4 linked regions of the Homo sapiens genome follow. The protein of the gene in region 3 interacts with the protein of the main gene of each other region in a pairwise test. Each region holds a gene or a part of one and is shown on either strand. Other genes may lie near its edges. The genes, in order: UBQLNL, UBQLN3, ASPA and DUSP29.

Region 1 (6,912 bases), on a different chromosome or scaffold from region 3:
CTCATATTATTCCTGTTCCACTTTCAAACTTGAACAATTTGGGTTTGAGAAATTCAGGCAGTCTTTATGACTAAATATCTGGGCCTATCTATGTAAAATGTTTCCCTTTCTGTTTGAGCATGTTATGATTGTTTTCCCTACATATGGGTCTATTTATGTGTCTCTAGGTATTTGCATCTGTGTTTGCACATGGCTGTGTGTACTCATATGTGGACTCTATATGCCTGTATATGTGAATTTTTTACTATGTGAGCTTGTGTACATACACACACCTGTCCAAGGTGACATGCTCAAAATAATCAGTTTCATATACCATGCTCAAGTTTCATATACCATGCTCAAAATGCTCATGTTTTAGAGATAAAAACATTATTTTTATCTCTATATTAATATATGCATGTGGTTTGTGTGTTAATGTACATATAGTAGGTGAGACAAAAATCTCACACAGCTAGTTTTTTCTTTTTTTTTTTGCAAAAGAAGTAAAGCCAAACCTCAGATCGCAGCAAGTGAGTGTAGCCATTTTATTGACAGATGTTTCAGCCACGACCAATGATCTATTATTCAGTACAAGACACATTGGTTGATAACTCTTATTCCAGGACTTCTCCTGGCTGGAAGCATCAGGAAAGGTGCAAAAGGCAAATGAGATGGTCAGGTGGGTCAGCAGGCAGGTAGCAAGCAAACAAGTAGGCATGGTGGTTAGAATCTCTGGGATCTCTTGAGCTTGCGGATAGCAGCATTGGTGTCCCCTTCAGTAGCAATGAGTGCCTGTAGATTGGCATGGTGGTTCCCAAATCCCATGGCCTGGAGAGAATCCATCTGTTTGCTAAAACAAATCTCAGGAGCTTGCAGAGGGTGGGAAGGGTCCCCATCCGGGGATTGTAGCCTCTGCAGGACTGTTCCAGGCTTGTGGCAGCACTCAGGTCCCTTGGGCTCAGCTGTATCTGAAACATTCCAGGAACAGGGCACTGTGTCAGGATAGCTGCAGCTGGGGGCAGGAAGCCAACCCAGGCCCCATAGGTAGGGTGCAACCCAAGGCAGAAGAACAGGAGCCTCTGTGGCCAGCAGCTGGAGGGCCTGCTCAATCTGCAATATTGCTTGGAATGCTTTAGGGTTGCCTAAGCACTAAGCAGATCAGAAATCTGTGTCTGCTGCAGGAATGTGGGCAGCTGCTGCCTCCACTGTTCACTCAGCTGGGGCATACTTGTGAACAACATAATCTGAGCTGCCAGGTAGGGGTTGTTCATAAGCAACTGCATCATGCCTCCTGTGATCTGGGAGCTGCTCTGCTCATCTGACAGCTGGAGATCACCCTTTAATGTCTGTCTGGAGCTACTTAGAGAAACAGTGGCATCCTTGTATTCTTCTTGAAGCTGCTGGGTAAGCTCTATGCTAGGTAAGGCTGGTATCCAAGCTGGCTGCCGAGTGGCACAGATATGGCTCTGGCCCTTGGTGGAAATCATAGCAGTGTTGGCTTTGGAAGTGTGGTTGACCTTGTTAAGGGTGTCATTGGCTGAGGTGTTTGAAGAGAAACCACCAGAGCTATTATAGATGACTCGGGTTGCAGGATGCTGTGTGAGCTGGTCTTGTTGTTCCTGTGATGGTGGTGGAGGTGGGGGTGAAGACTGGACTTGTTCTAGCACTTGTCCTGCCAGGAGAGCTGTGAAAGGGTTTCCTCCAAAAGGATCTTGCATGCTGTTCAGCATTTGATCATTGATATCAGCATAGTTCTGACCCAGGGCATTATTCCCACCTGGCATTGTCTCTAAGCCCAGATATGGCTGTGGGTTCAGTGGATACTCAAGGTTTTGTGAAGGTTGTTGGATCTGCATTATCTCTTGGATCATAGCAAGGTTCCTGGCCAGCTCCAGAGTCTGCAATAGGATCTCAGAATTATCAAGAAGAAGGCGGGAAACTTCTGGGTTCTGCTGCATCAATTGTTGCGTGTCTAGATGTTCTGAAATGAACTGCCACATGAACTCCATGTTGGACAGAAGCCGCTGGATGCTAGGATTCTCCAGCATCTGTGCTTTGCACTCTGGGTGGCTCACTTCCAAGTTTTGGGTATGCACTTTGGGTGCATCAGACCCCACAAAGTGGGCCAGTTCCACTGGAGCTTGATTCATACCAGTTGGTTGGTGCACTCTGCTGCTGTTTCCTTTGGTGTTTCTGTCCCGGTGGCAGGGATCATTCGTTGGCAGGTCCCGGAAGGAATGGGCTAGAGATCTGGAGCCCTGCTTGGACTTGATGACCAAGTAGATGGTGTGGCCATCCATGATGCCCCTCTGGCTCAGTGTGTCATGGTCTTTGAGAAGGCAACCCATGAAGACCAGCACTAGTTGGTCCATCTGGCATTGGAAGTGAGCCAATAGCATCTCCTTGAACTGCCTTACCGAGATGTCATCAGCTACCATAAAGTCTTTCTGGTTGCCTGCAGTCTTCACTATCACTCGAGTGGCACTTGAAGAGATATTTTTGTCTGCCAGCAGACCTGATGGACATCCACTCTGGGACATCCTGGATGTTCGAGAGATGGCATGCCACATGGGCTTTAGTGGGTGGGCAGATGGGGAGCAGGTGGAAGCTGGGGCAGAAAGGGTGAGGGCAGACAAATGTTTCTGCTGGCCTTTGTCTCAGGTATTGTGCTCTCAGGCCACAGGATAGTTTCCTTGTTGCCCTAAAAGGGATGAGTGACCAGACTGGGGCCAGATATTTTGTGATGTTGTGCCCTCACCCCAGTTCTCCAGATGTGGCCCAGCTGAGGCCTGGCATAGCTACTGATTCATAATTCACCCATGGTGGACAAAGTGGTGATGACTTCTCCTAGGGCTACCCCTCCTCCTACCCCACCCACCAGGGGCATGAATCCTCAGAAAAGGGATATTGTGATGTCAACTCTATCCTCGCAGTCACCCTGGGCCAGCTGGGGAAGGAGGACATATTTAGGGGTCCAGGGCTCTACAATAAAATAAAATAATTTTCCAGAAAACAGGGACAAAGTTCTCTGGATGGAACTAGTAAGAAAACAAAAAAGTAAATAAAAACCATATTTTTAAATGTGGGATGTGTGTTTCCGTGTGATACTGTGTGTATGTTCCTTATAGGGATGTTAGACTTGTATGAAAAGTTGGGTCTACTGAAGCCATAGATAAAGCCACATTCCTATAAGAATGCAGTCTCTCCCATAGGAAGGAGCGCATTAATTTTTTTAATGATCTGGAAATTTGGGTCTTATATAGAGTCTAGATTTTGGGATTCTATATTTAATTGTGCTCCCATGTGGTGGGGAAAATTTTCCTCTGTCCTAGGAAGCAGGAGTAGGGCTAACCAGGAAGGCTCTTCATAGGCACATGCCAAACTAAATGTGAATTAGCTCTTTTTTATAATATGCCTTTTATTCACATATCACTTGGTCTCTTCTACATGTCAATATAACAGAAGTTTTAGAATGATTTGTTTCAATGTCCTAACCCACTCTTGTGTGCCCACCTTTATGTCAAAGCATTAAGGGGGAATGTCGTCTGTAAATCAAGAGGTGGGAGAGGAGGTGGTTAGTAGTAAAATTCTTAAGGGGACAAATACAGGCAACTAAAAAGCTGGATTCTTGGTCCCATGTAAATTTGGAGAATTGTGTTTGGTTTTTATTTAGATGCAGATGGAAATAATTATTTATATGAGTGAGAGTGTACATGTCTTATCGAATGTATATATGAAATTGTATGCATATTCTGTGTTACTAGGAAGCCTTCAGGGTCTGGATTTTATATATTCCATCCACCTGCCTGGAGAGGGAGGAGCACCACACAGATAGCTAAGGAACAAGCAAAAAGCTCGAGCCCATATGTTCCCAGTGTGTTGAAGACAAGCAAAGGGATGATAGGCCGTTGGCCAGGAGACCTTCTGCTATCAAACCAATGATTCTTTATTGAGAATATCTAGACCCCCAGCACCATCCATGTCAGATCCTCATCATGCTATAAGGCCAGTTGCTAACTTACTACAGCAAGACTCAGGCCTATTCTCTTGCAATTGCACTCAAAAGTGAGATCGATCCAGGACAATGAAAAATTGATTACCAGACCAAGATCTTGCCCCTTTTCTCCCCAGGGACCTCACAGGAAGGTGGAGATAAGAAAGGGAACTTTCATATCCTACTCTAATGACCAGCTGCCCTGCAGCTTCTGCACTGGAATCAGGTGTTCCCAACCTGAGATTGACAATTCTAGATCACAGAACTCTTGAGTTCCGGGAGCTGGATTTATGAAAAAAGGAATATGAGATGCCAAAGCATCAGAAAGAGAGGGTACCATTTTCTTAGCTAATATTTTACTTTTTCCCTATCAAATCCACCTAGACCATTATTAAAGGGAACCTTAATGTACTGATTGAGATATTAATTACATAAAGAACTCACTAGATATAATCAGTCTTCCAATCATTAGGACCAATGGCCACTTTGGGATGTGGTCCTCCTGGAGGTAAGGAAGAGGGCACACTTCTACCAATGCTCTGCCTAGCCCTGGGGTCTCAGGGTCTGGAAGCCTCGTTAGGTTTGACAGGTTTTGGTGGAGCATGAGCCCCAGAGGGCCTCCTGGTGGGTGGTCTTGGTAGCCTGGTCTTCATTGTCAGGAAGGTGAGGTCATAATTTATCAGGTAACCATCACTGAAGACATACGGCTTGTGGTCTGAGGGGCAGTAGTTGATGCCCTGCAGCTTTTCCAGCATCTTGTCCAACAGGATGCTGAGGCGGCGCTCCTGCCCGGTGGTGGTGTCAAAAGCATAGAAGATCTCCTCTTGGTGGGTGTTCAGTGAGTGTAAGGCATAGAGCACCCCACAGGCCATGAAGGCCCCTGACAGGGCTGGCTTGTACTGGCTGGTACGCCAGGTTTTCTCCACTTCTAGGGTGCTAGCGTTGAGACGACTCACAACCAGGTTGCCCTTGCTCTCCTCAGTGGCATAGAGAACCCACAGCCCCTTCTCATCACCAGCAAAATCTAAGTCCTTCCAGGGCACACCAGCATAGGAAAAGCGGTTGTTATAGGTGGCACCAGGCAGCAGACGCCACAGCACCAGTGTGTTGGAGGAAAGGTCCATTTTGGCCATGTCACTTGTGCCACAGTAGTTAAAGTACATAAAGTTCTTGTACACAACGTTTCCACTGCCATCACCATAGCCCATCTTCCTCTCTTCATAGTTTTTCAGCAGTGCGAGGTCATTATAGGATTTGCACAGCCGATAGTAGTCAAAGTACCTAGGCCAAGTCCCTGCATTCAGAATTATTGGGTGACAGCCATAACTAAGGTAACAAAGAGCTACAAAAATAGGCAGATCAGTTTGCTAATTAAGAGCAGGGGCTTTGCTATCAAACAATTGACTTTAGTTCATCTTTCACTTACTCAACCATGACAAACTAAACAATTATTTTTAAAAGTAACAGTAATAATAAAACACCAATAGCTACAGTGCCTATTAGACACTATATATGCACAATCTTATTTAATTATAATAACAGCACTGTAAGGTAGGTTTTATCCTTACAGATGAAGAGACTAAGTCTTAGAAAGGTTGAGTCATTTGCTCGAGGTCACACAGCTTATAAGTAAAAACTGTAAACAAAAGTAACAAGCTACTTTATTGACTGTTAGGACTGTCCAAAATAAAGCAAAGAAAACAATTAGTACAGCATTTGTTTCAATAAGCAATAAAAAATGGTAGCTATTATTTTTTCTTCCTTATGGAGATTCTTCTGTATCTACTCTGCACTGCCTTCCACCTGTCCTCAAGATGCAAGGGTCCTGTAACAGGACATATTTCTGGAGCTGGATTCAGGGAGATTTGTTCTCATGAGGTCACATTGGAAAGTTCCTTAAATTATCTCTGAGTTATGAGTAATCTTATCTCTTAACATTGTTCTGTAAGTCCTGATTACCTATAGATTTTGAGAGGGTTCCAAGGCGTGTAAATGTATTTTATAGGCTACAAAGTATAGCACATATGAGTTATATGCTACAAATTGTGGCCTATACAATACATTTTAGATAAGCATAGAATTTTGGGAATATTATTTTCAGTAATACTAATTTTCAGTAACACTGATCTTTCTGAGTTGAGCTTCAACTGGAGCTCTTCAATGACTGGTTCAACCTAGATTCATGTCTCTCTCTCGCAACAGGTCTATATCACATTTTCACACACACTGGCTTTTAACATTCTGTGTGTTGGGCCTACCTCCCTAGCAAGGTTGACAATGTATTGAAGGTCTTATTCGTCTATTTATTGACTCTTTTAGCCATTCTTTCATCTAATAAATACATATCATCACCTATGTTTTACATACTTTTCTATGTAATCTTATGTGATCTTCTCAAATATGTATAATTATCCTCATTTTACATATGGCTAAGAAAGGTTCTGAGATGTTAATTCATTTTCCCAAGGTCACTTAGCTTAAATGGCAGTATAGAGTTTCAAACACAGATTGGCTTAATTCCAAGTCTCAAGCTTGGCCAGAGACATGCTCTGAACTTCTAAGCAGGAAGTTAGAATTTTGAGGCCCAGGTGTAGAAGAGTTTGTTCTTTACATAGAATCAGAGTAGAAGTAGAACCATCTTTGAGTTACTATGGGATTAAAATTTGTAGGCAGTGGATTTGTGAAGGAAACTCAGGGCAGTCTGGGTCACGCTTGTCTCATGAGAAGAGCGTTAGGAGGTGACCTGTCAGGCCTAGGCTAGGTTTGCTTTGGGGCATACTTAAAATAGAAGAAACCAGCGTGGGGCTGTAAAGAACCCTGTTTGGGTATGGGTAGGGGACATTTGGAATTAATCCGATTGCAGAACAGAAGTCACTCAGGGCTCACCTGCCATCTGTACGTAGAGGAGCAACCCAGTAAAGGGAAGAGGCTGGATTGGG
Region 2 (6,946 bases), on a different chromosome or scaffold from region 3:
ATCAAATCCTGGAAGTGCAAGCTGCTTGGGGGATAGTCTTCAGGGGAGATAAAAATAAGAAACTATAACCACTTTTCAGTCAGGCTAGTGGTAGGGAGCTCGGAAAACCAGAGCACCTGGTAGCAGCTACTACAGGACACAAAATCTGAAGAAACGCTGAAAGAACACTGGGAAAGTTGCAGGCCTCGACCTTCAAAAGGTTGCAGCAACATTTCCTCCTCTGTTCTTCATACCTGTGAGTCTTCTAACTTCAGACCTTTTAGTTTCCCTCCAAGTCCTTCCATCCATGTAGAGACAGCCCTTATCACTACTTCTTCTCCCATATCCATCCTTTTTCTCATAGCCCACATGAATGAGACTCAGGCAAGAGTTCACATTGGAAATTGGGTGTAATTGCATCTCAAGATAGGCATAAGCAGAGCTTAGACTGGGGCCCCCCAGTGGTATAGTGGTACAAGTGGTTGACTCACACACAGCACCTCCACTATGTTTTGGCCATTAGTCTTCCTCGTTGACTCTGGAACAACATTGCCTCCACAGCAAAGGACTTCATAGTAAATTTGGTTTATAATGCAGCTGTATTCAAAAATGGGAGAGCTAGGGAACTAGGATATGGGAAAAAGGCACAGAGGAAAACGTATGGTTTGAATGAATAAGGCTCCTACGACTGTCTCAGCTTCTCCACAGCAGCATCCACGTCGCCCCCCGTAGCAATGAGGGCCTGAAGATTGGCTTCACGATTCAGAAAGCCCATGGACCGCAGTTGCTCCAGCTGCACCTGAAAGTGAGCCTCAGGCTGCAGCTGCTGGGGATTTGTACTAACTAAATCTTGCAGCATATGGAGAAAGGGAGGGGAAAGGAAGCCCAGCTCTGCAGAGTCCAGTGCTGGGAACACCTCAGGAGGTGGATTTGGGAGAGGATCCTCAGACATAAGGGGATCTTCTCTAGACTCTATACCTCCTGCCACACTACCCGTCCCTGCTAGGCAAGGCATGAACCAGAGTAGGAGGCGAGGTGCTTCAGTAGCTAGGACCTGTAGACCCTGCTCAATCTGCCGCAGGGCTTGCAGGGCACGGGGGTTTGCCATGGCTGCCTGAAGGTGCATCAGCAGTGGCAGCTGTGGTTGTATCTCATCCTGTAACTGTGGAGCTGGATTCATGCCATCTGGCCTCAGAGATCTTGGATAAGCCGGGGATGGCAGCCAGGGAGGCTCAGGGATTCCAGGAATGGCTGCCGTGGGGGAAAAAGATAAGGGAGCAAATGGAACCCTGTTGGCAGAATCTCCCAGCCCCGAGACAAGATCAGGCAAGTTTGTGCTATGTCCAGTAGAGCTTTTCCCTGCACCATCTTGGTCTCCACCTTGTCCAGTACTGTTCTCTGTGGGGTATCTCAGGAAAGCTGGGCAGGAGGACCTTCCCTTGATTGCTACTGACTCCTCGGGGAGAGGCTGGCCTGACCCAGGCTCCTGAGATGAGGGTGACGATGGGGGAACTCTGTTTACTGATGGTGGTGGTTCCTGGCTTTGGCTGAGGGCAGATGCAGTCCCCTGTAGATAAGTTCCTAGGGACTGGGGGTTCTCGTGTAATTGCTGGAGATAGTCATAGAGCCTTATAATACCCAGAAAGTTTGGAAACCTATTTCTAATGTCAGGTGCATCCTGATCCCCATCCTGCCTTCCTTGCCTGCTACCTGAGCCTCCATGTGTGGAAGTCCAGGGGTTGGGGAGAGGGTCACAATTCTCCATCCTTGAAGGTTGGCTGGTGGTGGTGGTGGCATTATCAGTAGTGGCAGTGGCAAAGGGATTGCCGCCAAACTGCTCCTGGACTGCGTTAAGCATTGGGTCCATAATATCTGTGTACATAGTGCAAAGCACATTGTAGCCACCAGGAATGCTCTCCAAGTTACTGAGCACCCGGTCCTGGCTACGTATCATCTCCTGCATCATGGCAGGGTTACGTAAAAACTCCAGTGTCTGCCGCATAATTTCCGGGTTGTTAAGAATATGCCCAATCTCAGGGTTGTGCTGGATCAGCTGCTGCATATGGGGGTTGTCAAGAACCAGCTGGCGTACTAGGCCTGTGTTGGACAGCAGACCCGGGATGAAGGGGTCATCAATGAGCTGAGTCACAAACTCAGGCACAGACACATGCTGCCGCATCAGGGAGCTTGGCTGGTCAGGGAAGCCACGATAGGCCAAGCCCAGCCTACTGAGGCCTGTGAGGAGACCTAAGCTAAAGGCAGGGGGCCCATCTGCTGGGTAAATGGAGCTTGGCTGAGGGAGTGATCCAGGACTTGGGCCCTGGGTAGGGACAGAGGCAGCTGGGCACTCATTGCCCATGGCACGGTGCTGCCTCTTGATGACCAGGTGGACAGTGAGGCCATCTCGCACTCCACACTGTGCCAGTGAGTCAGGATCCTTGAGGATTTTGCCAGCAAAGATTAGAACAAGCTGATCGGGGTGGGCCTTAAAGCGCTGAGATATCTCTTCCTTCAGCTGCTGGATAGTGCATGTGTCTGTAACTGAGAAATCCTCCTTGTCTTTGGGCGTCTTCACTGTCACCTTGATGAGGTGGGGATCCTGGACTGGTGCTGGGCTGCCCTGTGGCAGGGCTTCTCCACCTTTGGCCATGGTGGCAGCAGGAGGCCCAGATCTGTGGGGACACAGCTAGGGGCATGGGGATTGGAGACCAAGATCATCCTTTCAGGCAATGGCAAAAGTAGGAAGGGTGAGTATGAAAAGGGTCTTGAATATCAGGATAGGGAAATCTGCAGGGTCTACATGAAAGGGGCCATGAGGTTTCTGGGGCAGGATGCTTTAGGAAGATTGCGGGATTGAGATATGTTGGAATCAGGGGAGGGAAATGCAGGGCCCTGGGAAAGAGGTCTGTAGTTGATGAATACAGGGACAAAGGTAGAAGGAAGGGCCCAGCTGGGGTGTACATACCAGTCAGCTGTGGTCCCGTCCTTCTCTTTATGCAGGGCTCCAAACCTCCCTCATCTTGCTACACAGCCACCCCTGAGGCCTTCTGGGCCAGAACCCGCACTATCAGGTCCCTTCTGTGACCTCAGTGCTGACGTCACAGCCTCACACAGAGAAGATTCTTGAGACTTCTCTAAGGAGCTCGGGATCCCTGGGAACTCTTGCTCTCCCATCTTTTACCACTTCTACTTCCTCCACCTCAAGTGCCTTCCTGTGGAGACTTCTGTGGAGGCTCAGACTGGGATTGGAATGTTATAAAACATCTCTCAGTCCTCTCTGTCTCCATTCAGACCCACATTCAGCTACTTCCTGGTCCAGGGTCTTCTTCCTGGTATCCTATGTCCCAGTTTTCTGTCTTATTCAACATTAACCATGAATTCTTTACGTATTTTCAAAGTATTGATTCGCTGATGGATAGGATTTGGGGTATAAGGGAGGAGTCAAGCATGAGATAACTTTTTTTTTACTTTAAAAGAAATTGTTATCCCCAAAGGAACTCAAAGGATTGAATATTTACTAAGACAAAGATTGGGAATAAGCACTTTGTCTAAATTAGCAGGTTGTTAAACAGTTTTACATACATTTGAGATGTCTATTTTACATACAAATGGAGATGTAGTATTGTAGTTTAATATTATAAGTCCAGAGTTTATTAGCATTCAAAGGGTACTTAACATCATGGACTGGTTTAGATTAGCTAGTTAGTGCATACAGGCAAAATGATAGAGATTTTAAAATCTGAGTTTTGTGGCTGTATAACATTTAGAAATCTGGAAGATCAGAAGAATTTGGCAAAGGAAACGGAGAAAAAATAAAAGAGTAAGGTAGAAAAAAAGAGAGAGAAAAGAGAAAGGCCAAAGGAAGAAGAGTTTCAAAAAGGAGAGAGTAACCAATCATGTGAAATGATGCTGCTAGGTCAGGAGGATGAGGATTGAGAATTGGCCACTGGATTTGAAAAAATAAAGAATTGGAGACCATGATGAGACTAGCTTTGGAAGGATAGTAGAGGCAGGAAGCCTAATCAGAGTGTGTTTAAAAGCAAATGGTTTGGGAAAAAGTAGATCCAGTTAGGGCATTTTAAATGCAAGAAAGGGGATGACGGCTATGTGGGGATGTGGGGTTAAAGGCTTTTTAGATTTTTTTCTTAAGAATAGTGTAATGATGTTTATATTCTGATAGAAACAATCCAGTGAGTAGAAAAAATTGATGCATGAGAAAGGGAAAACTATTAAGTTCTTGAATAGATAAGTTAGAGAGATTGGGAGCAAGTGCCTATGTGGAGAGCTTGATTTAGGAATATGAAGTTTATTCATGATAGCAGAATGAATGGGAGGCAGAGTGTATTGGGACAGTTGTAAGCTAGTTGGTTGATTTCATGGTAGACACAGGTAGAAGTCCCTTCTGATTATTACTGTCTTTCTTGTTGAAATAAGCACAACTTTAAGATTTAGAATAAGAAATGGATATTGAAGATCTGAGAAGAGAAAACAAGATATGAATTGATCATCTGAAAGAATAAGTGTTAGGTTTTGAAAGGAAGGCAAGGCTTAAAGAAAGACACACACACAGCAAATGCAGGGTTTATGTCTAGCATAAAACCTAGAGAAGTGTGGGACCAGCCTAATGCCAGAGCCCACCACTGCTTACAGGCTGGGGTAATTTATAGGTATGGGAGGGAGGGGTCTGGGCAGTATGGCTTGCTGCCTGGCAGGATATTGATAAGATGTGCTCATGATGAGGCAGTTTGGTCCTTGTTTCTGTAGGATGTCATCGTGGTGTTCAATGGACCTTTGCGCAGCAAGATATGATAGGGATGTTGCTTTAGTTGGACCTTTGTCTGCCTTGTGGTCAGGTGGTTAGGCAGGATGTTTCTCACAGCCTGAACCCCCGTGAAATGTTTCACTTTGACCAAGGTCTGCAAAATAGTGGGAAGTTTACAAAATGGTGCAGTTTGGACTAACAATAAGGTAGTGAATTAACTAGGATAGTGGATTTCCAGGTATGATCTCCAAACTGACAGCATTAGCATCACCTGGAAACTTATTAGAAATTAGAGATTTTAACCCAACGGTAGACCTACTGAATCTAACACCCTTGGAATGTCGGGCAGAAATCTGTGTTTTAACACGCCCTCCAGGTGATCCTGGTGCAGATTCTGGTGAGAATCACTGGACTGGGAAAATGCAGTTAGAATTACTAAGACGGTAATTAAATCTTTTGGTAATAAGTTTAAATGAAACTAGTCAGCACAGCTGTATGCCGTTTTTTGCCTAAACAGAGACTAGGTGAAGAGTTGAGTATCACCATGATAAGTTAACTAGGCAAGTATTATGCCACAATTATTATCTTCATGCATCATGAAATAATCTTGGAGCCAGAAAACTGGGCTGAGAAGCAGCAAGATGGTGCAAGAGTGACATCTATCCACTTCCAAGTCCAAGGGAAACACAGATGTAGCCACTGCTGGAGAAGCAGTGTCTTCACTAGACATTCAGATCTCCATTATAGCAAAAAGGTGTAGTCATCCTTAGGAAGAAGGTTGTAGATATGTGGGCTTTTCTATTGCTAAATTATGACTTCTAAATGGTAGGATGAAGAGGCTGGAAAACTGGTGACGAGTAGAAAAATGAGTCAAGTGAGGAATTTTCAGAGCATATTGTGATGAAAATAAAAAAGATGACCTGGATAGCCTGAGCTTTTTATGCAAGCTGTAGCAAAGAGGGTATGAAGCTTAATCATATTAAATGGGGAGGTAAAAAATCCATTTTCACTGTAATTTATTTATTGAGACTTATCTTTTTGGTAGGTGTAGACATGAAGTAGGGGTCTTTGGCAGTGAGCTTTCTAGAAACACTTGGAAGTTTGTAGGCCCGCCCTTCACTCTTACCGATGGCCATGTTGGGGCTCAGAAGGGGTGGTCTGTTGAGCACACAAATCTCTGTGGATGGGTCCCCTTTAGAGTCCAGAATCTACTCCTCAACACCTCCCCTGCTCCCACCCTACTGCAAGAAACTACTGTTTCTCAACTGCTCTATCATAAAAGCCTCCTAACTGGTTTCCCTGCTTCCCTGGTTTTCCTCTACCACAGTCCATTCTCCACTCTGAAGCCAGACTGATAAATTGAATTATTTGATTTATTTGCTCAAAACTCACCAGTGACTATTACATTCACAGTAAAATCCAAAGTTTTCACCAGACCTATAAAACTTTTCACAATCTCTCTGACTTCCTCCCCATTCCCCGCTCCTTTTTGTCCATTTCAGCTACATCACCTCCTTGTTATTCTTAAAACATAGCAGGAATACTGCTACCTTGGGCCTTTTACTTTCAGACAGCCCCTGGATCTTCCTTCTCCCAGTGAATTGCATGTTCAGTTCTCGTAGTTACTTCTGACTTCTGCTCAAATGTCACCTTTTCAGAGAGGCCTTCCCTCATCACCCTATGTAGAATATCTTATTCTGATTCATTTTTCTTCACAGCACTTACCACTTAACATAACTTGTATCTCCACAAAAGAAAGTAAAGTCAATAAATAAAGGATCTTTGTTTTTTTCACTGCTATTTTTTTCAATGCCTAAAACAACATTGAATTATTATGGTAAAAGTGTTTTAAATTATTTAATCATGGAATCATTAAAACACAAATAATTGCATATCCTGCCATGGTGGGATACTCTAGGTGAGGCAGAAAGAGAAAAAGGTGGGGCATTGGCAACCATGGAAAATGTAAACTACAAACATAAGATAGATATACTGAAGGAGGTGATATTCTTGGAAGGTGCTGTGCCCCATGGAGGGCTGGATTTGTGGTGACTGGGATATACAGTGGAGATGGCAGCAGCTGCATCTCTGTGTGCTAAAGAGACAGTAGAGACAGCCCATCACCATCTTATAATGGTGGCAAAATCAACGAGCAGGAGGTTCCAATGATGATAACTATTCATCCGGACTTGGTTAATATGTGAA
Region 3 (7,028 bases):
ATAAGGTTGTTTTGCTTTCTTATCATTTGTGTGTGTGCACTGGAGTAGAATTTTTAATTTTCTTCAAGATCCTTTTCTTTGAATTCACAACTTGGCTAACCAGTGCAAGAGGCCTAGCTTTCAGCCTGTCTCAGCTTTTGACATGCCTTCCTTACTAAGCTTAATTTCTAGAAGTATGACCCTTTCTTTCACTTGAACACACAGAGTCTGCTGTAGACTTATTAATTATTGTGTCTCAAGGAACAGGGAGGCCAGAGGACAGGGAGAGAGACAAGGAAATGGCCGGTCAGTAGAGCAGTTAGAACTCACACAACATTCACTAAGTTCGCAGTCTCACATGGGCACGATTCATGGTGCCCCAAAACACTTAACAACAGTAACATCAAAGGCCACTGATCACAGATCACCATAGCAGATATAATAAATAAATCATAAAAAAGCTTGAAATATTATCAAAGGGTGACACAGAGACAAGGAGTGAGCACATGCTGTTGGAAACATGGCACTGTTAGACTTTCTAGACACAGGGTTGCCAAAAACCTTCAATTTGGAAAAAAAGTACAAGTACAGTATCCGTGAAGTGTAGTAAGGCAAAGCACAATAAAACAAATAACTTTATATATATCTATTTCAATTTTATATTCTGAATACAAAGGCTGTTTATTAAGAATGTTGAGCTACCCAAGTATCATGTATAATAAACTATATAGAAATAGGAAACACTTCTTTGAATAAGCTACATACATAAAATATGATATCTTTAAAGATATATTAATTAATTTAAGAAATGTGCTTAGATGCCTACCGAATAAGGCACTGTGCTAGGAGCTATGTATGCAGTTGAATAAGGCACAACCCTACTCTTAAGGAGCTTACAGACTAGCAGAATTTGTAAGACACCGTGTAAGATGTAAGCTGGAAGTGATTTCTAATGTAAACAGCAGCGAATACTTTTTGCATTGAGCGTTAGTTTAGTTGTCTTTGCAAAAGCTTCTTTCTTTTCGTAATATGCGGCCTCATTCACAAACACGGGGTACACGGTACAGTCTCCGCCCAGTGGGATCGTCTTCCCATCAAGAGTTAAAAACATGGGATCCCCAGGATGCAGTGGTTTCCAGTCTTGATCCTCTCAGGAAACAATCAAAATAAATATATTATATTTGGTTTTTCTCCTCTAAAAATTTATGTCAGACTCTAGACAACTAACAAATTACAGTATTCTGTTGTTTTAAAAGAGATACTTGAGCGAGGCATTGAGATGCAGGCAAGTGATCTGACTGCGCTGACATTGGGTCGTGAATTTTGGCAGTAGTTTTAAGAGTTCCCCTTTGCATTTGTATAATTGAAACGTGTAATTAACATTTGCTTCAGCCAGGTGCAGTGGCTCCTTGCCTGTAATCCCAGCACTTGGGGAGGCCAATGTGGGTGGATCGCTTGAGCCTAGGAGTTCAAAACCAGCCTGGGCAACACAGAGATCCTATCTCTAGAAAAAATACGAAAAATTAGCTGGGTGTGGTGGTGCATGCCTGTAGTCCCAGATACTCAGGAGGCTGAGGTGGGAGGATTGCTCAAGCCCCCAGAGGTTGAGGCTACAGTGAGCTATGTTCACACCACTGCACTCCAGCCTGGGTGACAGAATGAAACCCTGTCTCTAAAAAAAAATAAAAAAGAGTTTGCTTCAATACCAGGTTTACCTTGAATGTAGCCAAAGAGATTTATAATATTAAAAGGCAAAACTAAATGCATGTCTACCTAAGTGCATAGTCTGCCTGTTGCCAGCTCAAGTTAAATTCTGTTCAGCAAAATTTAGGAAATATCCATTAGGAGTCTTCTGTGTGCAAGACATTCTACCGTTGGGAAATATAAAAATGAGCCATGTTGTACCTGCATACAAGGAGATTCTATTCTGACGGGGATTGGTGAGAGAAGGTGGTGCTGGGCTGGGGAGAGTCTGGGACAAGGTGGGTGTATTCCAAATGTGCTCCTACATTAGGGTAACAACTGAGTTATCTGAAGGGTCCCGCACCAGGGATTTGGACCTTTGAGCCCTCAAGCACCATGGCTGTCACACCACGGGAACCCCAGAACAGTTCTTCTCAAACTTTGAGGTGCTTGTAAATCATCTGGGGATTTTGTTAAGATGAAGATTCTGATTCTATAGGTTGGGGGTGGGGGCCTGGGATTCTGCATGTCTAACATTTCCCAGCAGCATCCGCATCACCCAGGAGCCTGTTAGAAAAGCAGGATTTCATTATGCGCAGCAGACCTACCAAATCAAAATCTTCATGTTAACAGGTCCTTGACGTTCACGTGCACGACATTAGTGTTTGGGAAGTGCCGCATCACCGCAGTTTTCTCCATCCTGGTGGCACATTATGATCGCTTGGGATGTTAAATACATATATACAGGTAGAGGGGCTGGCCCATTTCAGATAAATCAAATCAGAATCTGAGAGGAGGGCCTAGGCATCATTATTTTTATATTTTATTTTTAAATTTACCTACAGTGAAATTCGCTCATTTTTGTGTGCAGTTCTATGAGTTCTGACTTGCAGAGCATGGAGTCATATAACCCGCAACCATGCCATCAGGATACGTGCTTCTTTCAGCCACCTCCTCGAATCCCTCATGCTACCCATTTATAGTTCACTGTTTTCTGTGTTTATTGTATTTAGGCCCCAGATGATTTACAGGGTGGCTCGGCTGAGAACTATTTCTCTGAACCGGTGGTTTTTCAGGCAGAGACTTGCCCCAGAATCACTAAAGGAACCTCTTCAACACACGTCTGGCTAGCCCCACCTGTGGAGATTCCGACATTGTGCAGTGCTATCCAGACCTGAGCCACATGAAAATCACCTGGTGAACTCAATTGATTCCCTGTCTACACCCTGATGAATTAGATCAGAGCCCCTGGGAAGAGGACTCAGAAATCAGCATTTTTTCTTTTTCTTTTTAGACGTAATCTCAGCTCTGTCCAGGCTGGAGTGCAGTGGCACAATCTCAGCTCACTGCAACCTTCACCTCCCGAGTTCAAGCAATTTTCCTGCCTCAGGCTCCCGAGTAGCTGGGATTACAGGCGCCTGCCACCATGCCCGGCTAATTTTTTGTATTTTTGGTAGAGATGGGGTTTCACCGTGTTAGCCAGGATGGTCTCGATCTCCTGACCGCGTGATCCGCCCGCCTCGGCCTCCCAAAGCGCTGGGATTACAGGCGTGAGCCACCGCTCCTGGCCAGGAATCAGCATTTTTAAAAAGCTCCCCATAATTGTCATGTGGCTCAAGTTTGAGAAGCGCTACTTTAGTAGTTTGTGGTGGGTTCTAGGCACTGGGAGGGGGTCCCCTACGTGATTCCAGTTAGCATCCCTTAGTAAGAACTGTCATTCTTAGGACAAAATCTAGACTCATAACCGGGTCCTGAACTGTGTTTTCTCCAGGCTCTACCGTCCTCTGCTCACTCCTCCTCTCCAGGGATATGGGTCTTCTTGCTGTTCCTCAGATGCTCCAAGTTTGTTCCAGCCTCAGGGCCTCTCACTTGCCTTCCACATGGCTGGCTTCTCATCTTCTAGGTTCCAACTTCAGTGCCACCATCTCTGAGATGGCACTTTGTGACCACTCCGTCTAATTGGAACCCTTTGTTATACCCTCTGCTATATTATTTTGTGTATTTCTTTTACAGCACTTATTACAGTTTGAAATGATTTGGTTTACATATTGTTTACTTATTCATGGTCAGTTCTCCTCACCCATTGGGATGGAAGCTCCATGAGGAACCTTCCCTATCTTGAATCTCAAGGCCCAGAATGAGCTTAGTTGTCATTCAAAAATATTTGTTGGCAGAATTAACCAATCAATCCCTCCTGTAGAATACTGAGCCATTCATTATTGTCTGTCAAATCAAAACCATCCTTCCTAACTTTCGAGACCTACCACTAGCCCAGTTTGCTACTGATCTCATTCATCTCACTTCTCCGTCTGCCTGGGATTATTTTTGTACTCCTCAAGAGTATCCTAAAACCTGAAAAATCCTGTTTTAGCCTGCCATGATATCATCACCTTGGCCTCTGTTTCTTGTACTTGATATTTTTGTCACCAATAGTGCTTTCTTCCTTTCTCTCCCCCAGTCTTTACCTTTCCTTTAAAACACTGCTTAAGGCTGGGCAAGGTGGCTCATGCCTGTAATCCCACCACTTTGGGAGGCCGAGGCAGGTGGATCATGATGTCAGGAGATTGAGACCATCCTGGCCAACATGGTGAAACCCCATCTCCACTAAAAATACAAAAGTTAGCCGGGTGTGGTGACGTGAGCCTGTAATCCCAGCTACTCGGGAGGCTGAGGCAGGAGAATTGCTTGAACCCGGGAGGTGGAGCTTGCAGTGAGCTGAGATTGCACCACTGCACTCCAGCCTGGGCGACAGAGCGAGACTCCATCTCAAAAAACAAAAACAAAAACAAAAACAAAAACAAAAACAAACACTGCCTAAGGCTGCTTCTTCAGGTTTCCACCTGGGTCCCATTAAGCCACAAAGCAGGATTTGCTTCACTCGTCTGTATTACTGGGCAGGCCACTTCATTCAGTTGCAAGTCTGGATGACTATTAGAGTCACTAAACAGGGATAGGAACTGGATCAATCAGTGTTTTTCAATCCTGATTATCCAAGCCAAAAAGATCAGAGTATCTCAGAGTGGAGTCCTGCCATTGCTATTATGATGTTTTTTAAAAGCTCTCTAGGTAAAGGTTAGTCGGGGTTGAAAGCCCTGGACTAGATAATCCACCAGTTCTCTTCCATCTCTGAGGTCTGGGAGTGTGCAGGCCACTTGCACTGGGGAATGGATACTTTGGCTTTGGAAATCTGTTCTTCTCTCCTTTTCCCTTTGCCTTTTCCGGATTTAAACCTCCTACATTCTCTCAAGAGCCTTTTTTTTTTCCTTCTTCACTATGTCATTATTGATAAAACTAGGCAAGGAGTAGATTCTGGGGGTTCTGAGGAGAGTTGGGGAATGGTGGCAGAAGAAAGAGGTTCCAGTCGTTTTTCTCTAACTTATTCTGTCACAGGGAGGTAGCAAGTGATGCGGCCAACTTGAAAGAGCACTAACTCTGGATCTGTCATTGATAGCTACATGGCTGTGGGAAGGTTCTAACTTCCGTCCCTGTATTTCCTTATATTAAAATAGACATCATAATTCCCACCCGCTGAATGTGGGTAGGAGTTTCACTTTCTCTAAGTGGCCTTGTCTGACCACTCCTCTCCCATCTCATTATTCTGTCATCTCATCTGGCTGTCTTCATTTCTAGACTAAAGTTAGACTTTTGTGTACCTACACTATAAATTCCATTGAGCGTGCAGGCCATACTTACTGGTGTGTCCACACAGCCAGCACAGGTTACACTGAATAAGTATTTATTGAGCGACAGTCCGAACATCTTCCCTATCTACACTCAGTGTCTAATGAGAGCATCAAATGGGCGAATGTACGCGAAGTGCTGTATGAGCTATAAACTTCTATTCAAAGGTACAGCATTATTATTTTCAACATTTTAAAGAAAGAACAAATGTTACCTGCAGATTAGGATGGATGATAGCAGCAATTTCTCCATTTTCATCCCGGGGGTAATCAACTTTCTCTATAATTTTATAGACCTCAATGGCGCAGGGAGGAAATTCTTTTCCTATGACAAAAACAATATGTATCAATGGCAACTAAAAACATCTCTGGGCCGGGTGTGGTGGCTCATGCCTGTCATCCCAGCACTTTGGGAGGCCGAGTTGGGTGGATCACCTGAGGTCAGGAGTTCGAGAACAGCCTGGCCAACATGGTGAACCCCATCTCCACTAAAAATACCCAGGTTGGGATTATCCTAGTTACTTGGGAGGCTGAGGCAGGAGAATCTCTTGAACCTGGGAGGTGGAGGTTGCAGTAAGCCATTGCACTCCAACCTGGGCAACAAGAGTGAAACTCTGTCTCAAAAAAAAAAAAAAAATCTGGAAAAAGGGAAGTTAACAATGTAAGGAAGAAACAATAATAACAACAGCAACAATAACAAAATGAAGACAGCTATGGGGAGAACAGATAACGTTTAGTTAAGGATGTTCATAAACAGCACTAGGCCAAAAGATGTCCTTGAATGATTCCTATCAGCACTCTGTCCACAAACACGCCGACGGCCAGAGGTAGAAAACAGAACTGAAAAAGCCAGTTTGAGAGAAAAAGAATCTAGGTTTAGGGGTCAGGAGACCTGGGCTCTAATCCCCTGGCTATGCGGCCTTGAACAAGATGCTTAACTTCTTGAGGCTCGCTTTCTTGACCTGTCAAATGAAGGTATTGGATTAGCTTATCTTGGAGGACCCTTCCAGCTATGATGTTTTATGACTGCATATTTTCAGGAGGAGTTCCAGCAACTGAGGTGACTTCAGTATCGTGCTCTTTTTCTTTCCTTTTTTTTTTTTTTTTTTTTTTTGAGATGGAACCTCGCTCTTTCACCCAGGCTGGAGTGCAGTGGCGTGGTCTTGGCTCACTGCAACCTCCACCTCCCGGGTTCAAGCGATTCTCCTGCCTCAGCCTCCTGAGTAGCTGGGACTATGGGCATGCACCACCACGCCCGGCTAATTTTTGTATTTTTAGTAGAGATGGGGTCTCACCATGTTGGCCAGGATGGTCTCGATTTCTTGACCTTGTGATCCGCCCGCCTCAGCCTCCCCAAGTGCTGGGATTACAGGCGTGAGCCACCATGCCCAGCCTCTTTTTCTTAACTAAGTACATTAGACACTTGGACAGCTCCTGAGTAATGAGATCTTGTGATGCAGGCAGCCTGCCAGTGGTGGAGACCAACTTCCAAAGATGCAGCAACCTCAACCCAATTCCCAGAAACTTGGAAAAGGAGTAGTTTATGCATATACCAGGCTATCTCTGAGCAAACAGGATGAACGTTTGGTCCAATGTAGGGCCCACAGCGTGTTATGGTCACAACTCAAAGGAAAGCCTTCCTTTGCTTTTAGAGCAGAGTTAGAATGGGTATGCCCAGTGATCACT
Region 4 (7,245 bases), on a different chromosome or scaffold from region 3:
AGTTGTGTTCCCAACCGAGAATAGGAAAGAGTGGGTGGAGCAGTTTGGCCGGGGCGGAGGTCTTGGTAGGGAAGCTGTGGCGGAGGAGATGGACTCATGTGAGCCTGAGCATTGTCCTGTGGGTGACAGGACCCATCGCCTCCTGCGTGACATGCAAGAGAGTAGGAGAAAGGACTCTCCCCAGCTAGTCAGCCTCTGGTCGCTGTGTCAGGCTGCTAGGAGATCTGACCCCCTCGTTACTGTGGAACGGGTAGGCCCAGAAACGTGAATGGTCACCAGAAGAGGAGATTAAAACACCATCTGCTCTGAAATCAGGCCGAAGAGGACAAACAGCTAACTCCTGGCCCAGGAACCTGGAGTGGCTGTTTCCAGGCCGGGCCTCCCTGAGACAGGGGCCCTGGTTGGAGTTTAGGGGTTGAGAGGAGTAGGAGAGTGAGATGCCACCAGGCCTCTACCCCAATGAGAGGCACCAGAGCAAAGGGGCTACACCCCGAAACTCTGAGGCACGCTGGGTTCTGGCCTCTGCCCCTGTTTAGGCTGCATGACCTTGGGCAGAACACTTAGTATTTGTGTCTCCGTGTCCAATCTGAAATGGGGCTGTGCTGTCCATCCCTCATTAAGCTGCTGCAATTCTGAGGAATAAATGATTCCTGCTTGTCAGGAAAGCTCTTGGAACAGTGCCAGACACATAGCACAGGAAACACCGCCAGGCCTCGGGGCCGCAGTGTCTGGGGAAGGCTTGGTGGAGGCTGCTCACCCCCACCCTGGTGGACTCAACTGGGCCTCCCTGGGGCTGCTGGAAGATGCTCACAGCCCAGCCCCTGGCCTCAGGGCCTCCCCTAAGCCCCTCATCTACTGTGGGGTCAACAACAGCCACGGGAGTGCCACCCGCAGACAGGACCAGGTTCCCACCCAACCCAGGTGTCAGCCATGACTGAAATGTCCCCAGTAAGGGCTCCAGTTTGTCTGATGGCAGAGGACCACTGGCTCTCTCCTCACCCTCAGCGCAGATCTGCCTTTGCCCATGAAGATCCTTCAGAGCCAAGTGAGATCCTGATACCGGAGGAGGGCCAGGAAGTGCTGGGTAGAGAAAGGCAGGTCCCTGGCCAGGGCTCCACCTCCACAGACCCAGGTGAGGACAGGCACTCCTGCCTTCGCACCCAAATGTTATATTTTCCAAGACCACCCTGGCCCGCCACACCCCAATCCTGTGCCTATAAAAACCTGAGACACACAACCGGCTGGACGTACTGAGGAACACATAGGCAGAAGACACAAGCGGCTGGTTGTCAAAAGCGCGCCGGCAGAAGATCACGCCGACAGGCACTGGCAGGCCTGCAGGCCATTGACAAGCGGAATGATGCGGAGTTTGGCCAGAGCGGTTGGAGGAGAAGAGTCGGCTGCTGAGTGGCCCAACTCCAGGGAAAAACTGTCTCCCTTCTGGCTCCCCCATCTGCTGAGAGCTACTTCTACTCAATAAAACCTTGCACTCTTCTCCAAGCCCACATGTGATCTGATTCTTCCCCTACACCAAGGCAAGAAACCCCAGGATACAGAAATCCCTCTGTCCTTGTGATAAGGAAGGAGGTCTAATTGAGCCAGTTAACACAAGCCGCCTATAGACAGCAAACTAAAAGAGCACCCTGTAACACACACCCACTGGGGCTTCAGCTGTAAACATTCACCCCTAGACACTGCCATGGGGTCAGAGCCCCACAGCCTGCCCGTCTGTATGCTCCTCTAGAGGTCTGAGCAGCTGGGTACTGAACAAGCGAGCCACACCCCCGTCGCATGCCCTGTGAGAGGGACAAAGGAACCTTTCCTGTTTCACTCCCACTAACTCTCCTCAGACCCACCCCATGTCCACCCCAGCCTCCATGCCCAACGCGCCTTCCTTGTTAAGAACTCAGCTCAGAAGCCCTTCAAGTGTTGTTTATTAATGTCAGAGTCCTCGGATTTGTCGGTGGGACCAAATGATATTCTCATGATGAGAACAAGGAGGGATCACAAGCTAAAGGTGGGGGCAGCGGAAAAAACATCCAGGGCCAGGGACCCTCAGGTGCTGGCGGCCGTGAGTGTGGCAACCTCTCCAGACATCCTCCTCGTGCCCTTCCTCCTGTTCGCTGGAGCATTTTCCGCTTTCCCGAACGATCAGAGCCCCCGGGCCCAACTGTTCTTGGGTTCCAGGCCCATGAAGGGACCCCTGGGGTCACAGCACAAGGGCACCAGGGTCTAATGGGAGAGCCCTGGTCTGAGACGCAGGCCCGTCCCACTTCCTGCCCACACAGGTCTGAGACACAGGCCCATCCCGCCTCCTGCCCACACGCGGTACAGCCTACACTCTTGGTCCAGTGGCTCTGATCCTTCATGACCCAGTCCCACCCCCCATCTCTACCACGGCAGCGTCATCCCCAACCCCATCCTCCCACCAGGACTGAGAAATGCTCCCAAACCCGCCACTCTGTCCAAATGACGCTTTTGTGTTACCTGGGACACAGGGAGAATTCTCATCCCTGGAGCTTTAAGTACTTTCTTGTCTTTGATGCTGCCCTACACAGGATCCGAGTCACTCCAGGGCCTCTCTCTCTCTCGCCCCCGAGATTTCTCCCCCTTTACTGGCTAAATGGACAAACGTAGAACCTCGTTGGAATGTGGAATATGATACAATACATCCAATGCTTCACAAGGGCTCGATGAGCTTTAATCCACCCCATTATCCTTTAGAAATGGTCGTTGAACTGGAAGTTCAGATTTGGAGAAAGGGAAATGGAGAAAATTCCATGGTGTCTCTCGTAAAAGGACAGCAAGAAACCTTTCACACTAGAAGGAGGTCGGCTATTCCCCACAGCACCAGGAACAGGGTGGAAAAGGGGCTTCTAATCCCCACACCCAGGCCCCCAAAGAACACGTGGGTGAACCCAAGGGGTGCCGGCCTCCCCACCCAGCGGCCTTACCTGGGTGTGCCGGGGCCTGGCCGCGTCGGGAGGTTCTGGTCCGTGGGGCATGTAGCAGCCGCACGCCCAGCCACCCCCACTGGCAACAGAGGCCTATTTTTAGGGTCAGATCTGCTGACGCTGACCTTGCGTGCCGTCCAGTCTAAGAGGAGACCTATGACATCTGCTTGCAAAATGATTTTCCAGTGCGACCTGAAACCCTTGACTTAGGAAGCCCTGTACCTGAAGCCTACACGCTTGTCCCCGGCCCAGCCACAGAGGCAGGACATGTGGCCACCAGGGCAGGGACAGACAGGAATTTTCCAACTTTGTTTTCCTGGGATGGACGAAGCCAGGTGTCTACAGGCCCTGCCCTGAGCCCTGTCCCAGAACAGCTAGAACAGGGGAGGTTTGCCCACTGGCACAGCTCTCTATTCCAGTCTTTTCTGAGAGTTTGTGGAGCTATCTCTGGGAGGCCAATGGAATGGATGCCACATCACACAGGGTAATCAATGAAACTCTGGGCAGAGTTTGTGCTGTGTGGCTTCCAGTGAGACCCCAGCAAGCACCCAACCATGCTGGGCTTCAGTGGGGATAATGATCATAATATCCTCCTCTTACATTGCTATGAGGACTGAATGAGATAAAGAATTTGGTGGTATTAGAATATTTAACAGTCTCCAGTGAGCCAAGATTGTGCCACTGCACTCCAGCCTGGGTGACAAAGCAAGACCCTGTCTCAAAAAAAAAAAAAAAAAAAAAAAAAAAAAATATATATATATATATATATATATATATATTTAACGTTAACAGTCATTAACAGTCGTTCCCAGGTCTCTCTTCTTGGCCCTTTCTTCTGTCAACCTTCCTCCTCAATGGCTCCAGAGTTCTTTGCTCTGGGATCCCTCCCACCAAGCCCTACCAATGTAGCCCCGCTTTTTAATACTTACGGGCAAAATCCTGCCCAGTCTCCTCTAATTTTCTAGTAAAATCTTCCCAGGGCTTGCTACAGTTCCTTATAATGAATGACGTGGTTCTCCATTCGTATCCATCCTTGTCATCCTCTCTGGGGCATGCTTTAGTGTGTGAAGGACTGGGAGAAGTAGGGAAGGAAGCACCAGGCTCCCACATCTTTCACTTAACACAATCTTCTTGCATTGGGGTCATTATATTGTCCTCTGAAACTTTATTCACCCAACCAAAGATCTTCCTCACAATTTGCTACATTAGCTACTGCCAGTTTAATTTATAGCAATTATTTCTACTAGTACTATTCATTGCTAAGTGACTTAGCTTTTATTGATTTCTTGGTGTGAGGAAAATTCCCAAGGCAAATACACAGAATCTGAGTGTACAATGAAGTCAGAATGTCAGAGTCCAAATGTCCCTGCTGTCAAGTGCTGGAGTCAAAACAGCAAGGTCGAAAGGCCCTTCTGCACTTACCCCAAGAACTAAGGGAGTCAGAGATGCTGGAATTGCCAAAGATAGAGAAGAAAGATTTCTCCTTAGCTGAAAGCCTGGGGGGCAGCCCCAGCCCCAGTCAAGGGCTGAGGAAGCAAAAGGGAGCTCTGAAGATGCAGCTTCAGCAGGGAGCAAACATAACATATCTAAAGACATCTGAGCTAGCTAGATGACTGAGAGAGGGAGAGAGAGAGTATTTCACACCATCTAGGAAACGTTCAATGACTTAATTTACAGGAAGTCAAGAGGAGAATTTGGTGGGTTGTTGGATTATCACCTCCAGTAAAGTAGACCCTACATGTGGTTAACCAGAAGACTGATGGCCCCTCCTCTAATCCTTCACACATTAAAATAGGCCCAAAAGAGGGTGACAAGGATAGAGAAGGGTTAAAAAAAAAACAACCATCATTTACTATGGGGAACTGAAGGAAGCCCTGGGAAGGTTTTCTTAGAAAAGAGTGGTGGTGGTGGTAGAGGATACCTGGTCTGTCTTCGAGGAGCTAAGGGGAAACACCAACATTCTCTGCACAACACTAAGGGCAGAACCTGGACCTTGGGAGACACCCCAAGAGCTGCCTCATGTAGATGAAGGAAACACACCATCCCATCAAGATGGGAGCGAGCCAGGTAAGCATCAGTTGGACTGAGAGATGTGTCCAATTGTTCCCAACTCCAAGGAGATTTCCTAGGATTCTGTGAAAAAGCAAGCTCCATTCATGCAGGTCAAGTATAATCCTGTAGAAACAACTGTTACTGGCTGGGCGCAGTGGCTCACACCTGTAATCCCAGCACTTTGGGAGGCCGAGGCGGGCAGATCACTTGATGTCAAGAGTTCAAAACCAGCGGCCAACAGGGGAAACTAACATATGAAGTTTGCCGTCCTGGACCCAAACTTTTCTGGGTCCAGAAGATCCAGAGGCTTTTAGTGCCCTGTGGATACCTGAATATGCATGGAGGCTGAGTCCAGCTGCAGCCCAGGGGAGAGGCCTCCCTGCCCACCCAGAGGCCGGATCCAAGGGCTGTAAGTCTGCAGCTCTCCCAGACGGCTCTCTTTTCCTTCACATTAAAAAGCAAAGCAAAGCAAGAGAAACTGAGGCCTATGTTCTGCAGGAAGTCCAAAGCCCTCTCCAACATCTCAGAGGACTGTTTATCCCTGGGAAAAGAATAGTAGGATGGCTCTCATTTCTCCAAAGTCAATTCTGCTGTGGCCTCTCCACCCTTGCTGGCACTCTCTGGCCTATCACTCCTACAACCTCATTCTGAGCTTGACACCACCATCTTCTATTATTCCTCCATCACTCACCCAAGGGATTGTGTGGGGCAGAGGGATTGCAGCACAGAGCAGGAGACAAGTCCACATTCAAGGTTTAACCTCCCCATTCTTTGAAAATTATTGGCTAGGCCCCATCTCCAAGGACTTTCTGTGTCCTGCTGTGTTCATGAGGCTCCTCTCTGTACATGCGATTGTCACAGCCTTCCTTTTTCTTCATTCGTCATCTCTCCCCTCCTCTCTAGAGCCGAGTGCCTCAACAGGCTCGAGAGTCCTCCTATTGTCATGCAGAGCAGCTCAACTCCCTCTTAGTCTCAACCTCCCAGGCAGACTAAGCCTAGGGTGCCCCCATTCTCATCCAACAAGCTCACCCAGGTGGCTTGGTGGCGGGTGCTTGTAATCCAAGCTATTTGGGAGGCTGAGGCAAGAGAATTGCTTGAACCCGGGAGGCAGAAGTTGCAGTGAGGTTGCAGTGAGCCGAGATTGTGCCACTACACTGCAGCCTAGGAGACAGAGCGAGACTCCGTCTCAAAAAAAAAAAAAAGAAGAAGAATATGTAGGTGCTTTGTTCTCTTGGGATCTGGCTTTCAGCAGTGGCAAAGTGTGACTGTAACTCTACCCATTTTTGTAATTAAAACCATCCACAGGCCACAGAGAATGCTTTTCCCTTTCTCTTGCTCTGTGTTCTCAAAATCAAAGGTAACTAAATATGAATTAAATGAAGGTTGGTGGGCTGTGCTGCCACTGACCTTGGAGGTGGACACTGCTTTGGAGTACTAGGAGGATTTGAGCTATGGAAGGGCTTCCCGGTGAAGAAAGGGGGCTTATTCTATTTGTCAAGTATATCTACTCAGATAGTATAAAGGACCTGGTAGCGCTGAGCGTCCTGATGTCTGTGTTTCACCTCACAGTTCTGGGGGCACTCCAGAATTAGCATGGTATTCTGACAGTTGCAATAGCTGAGAAATATTTTCGTATATTACACAGTTCATAGTGGTTTTTTGTTTGTTTGTTTGAGACAGAGTTTTGCTCCTGTTGCCCAGGCTGGAGTGCAATGGCACAATCTTGGCTCACTGCAACCTCTGCCTCCCGGGTTCAAGTGATTCTCCTGCCTCAGCCTCCCAAATAGCTGGGATTACAAGCACCCGCCACCATGTCCAGCTAGTAGAGACGGGGTTTCACCATATTGGCCAAGCTGGTCTCGAACTTCTGACCTCAGGTGATCCACCTGCCTCGGCCTCCCAAAGTGCTGGGATTACAGGCGTGAACCACTTCACCCGGCCCCATAGTGTTCTTTAAAGCATATATATGTAGGTCTAGATGTAATGAGCGTAACACATAATGACAGTTCTTTACATTGGCTACTAGACTTGTAAATAGTTTCATTTTTATAATATTTTATTTATTTATTTATATTTGTTGAGATAGGGTGTCATTGTATCACCCAGGCTGGAGTGCAGTTGTGTGATCATAACTCACTGCAGCCTCGACCTCCCTGGTTCAATCGATCCCCCCACCTCAGCCTCCCAAGTAGCTGGGACCACATCCGTGCACCACCACGCCCAGCTAATTTTAAAATTT

What was found.
Region 1: the proteins of ASPA (region 3) and UBQLNL interact in binary tests that used the Homo sapiens proteins (3 or more experiments, as listed by UniProt).
Region 2: the proteins of ASPA (region 3) and UBQLN3 interact in binary tests that used the Homo sapiens proteins (3 or more experiments, as listed by UniProt).
Region 4: the proteins of ASPA (region 3) and DUSP29 interact in binary tests that used the Homo sapiens proteins (3 or more experiments, as listed by UniProt).

The regions. Positions count from the first base shown.
Region 1 is NC_000011.10:5,513,893-5,520,804, forward strand, and holds UBQLNL (ubiquilin-like protein), read right to left. Parts: upstream 2,808-6,912; 5' UTR 2,550-2,807; coding exon 1,122-2,549; 3' UTR 501-1,121; downstream 1-500.
Region 2 is NC_000011.10:5,506,930-5,513,875, forward strand, and holds UBQLN3 (ubiquilin-3), read right to left. Parts: upstream 3,029-6,946; 5' UTR 2,945-3,028; intron 2,699-2,944; exon of another isoform or gene 2,666-2,698; 5' UTR 2,630-2,665; coding exon 662-2,629; 3' UTR 371-661; downstream 1-370.
Region 3 is NC_000017.11:3,492,989-3,500,016, reverse strand, and holds part of ASPA (aspartoacylase), read right to left. Parts: intron 5,668-7,028; coding exon 5,558-5,667; intron 1,127-5,557; coding exon 929-1,126; 3' UTR 1-928.
Region 4 is NC_000010.11:75,070,615-75,077,859, forward strand, and holds the start of DUSP29 (dual specificity phosphatase 29), read right to left. Parts: upstream 3,029-7,245; 5' UTR 2,955-3,028; intron 2,620-2,954; exon of another isoform or gene 2,488-2,619; intron 1-2,487. UniProt on the Homo sapiens protein: Dual specificity phosphatase able to dephosphorylate phosphotyrosine, phosphoserine and phosphothreonine residues within the same substrate, with a preference for phosphotyrosine as a substrate. Involved in the modulation of intracellular signaling cascades.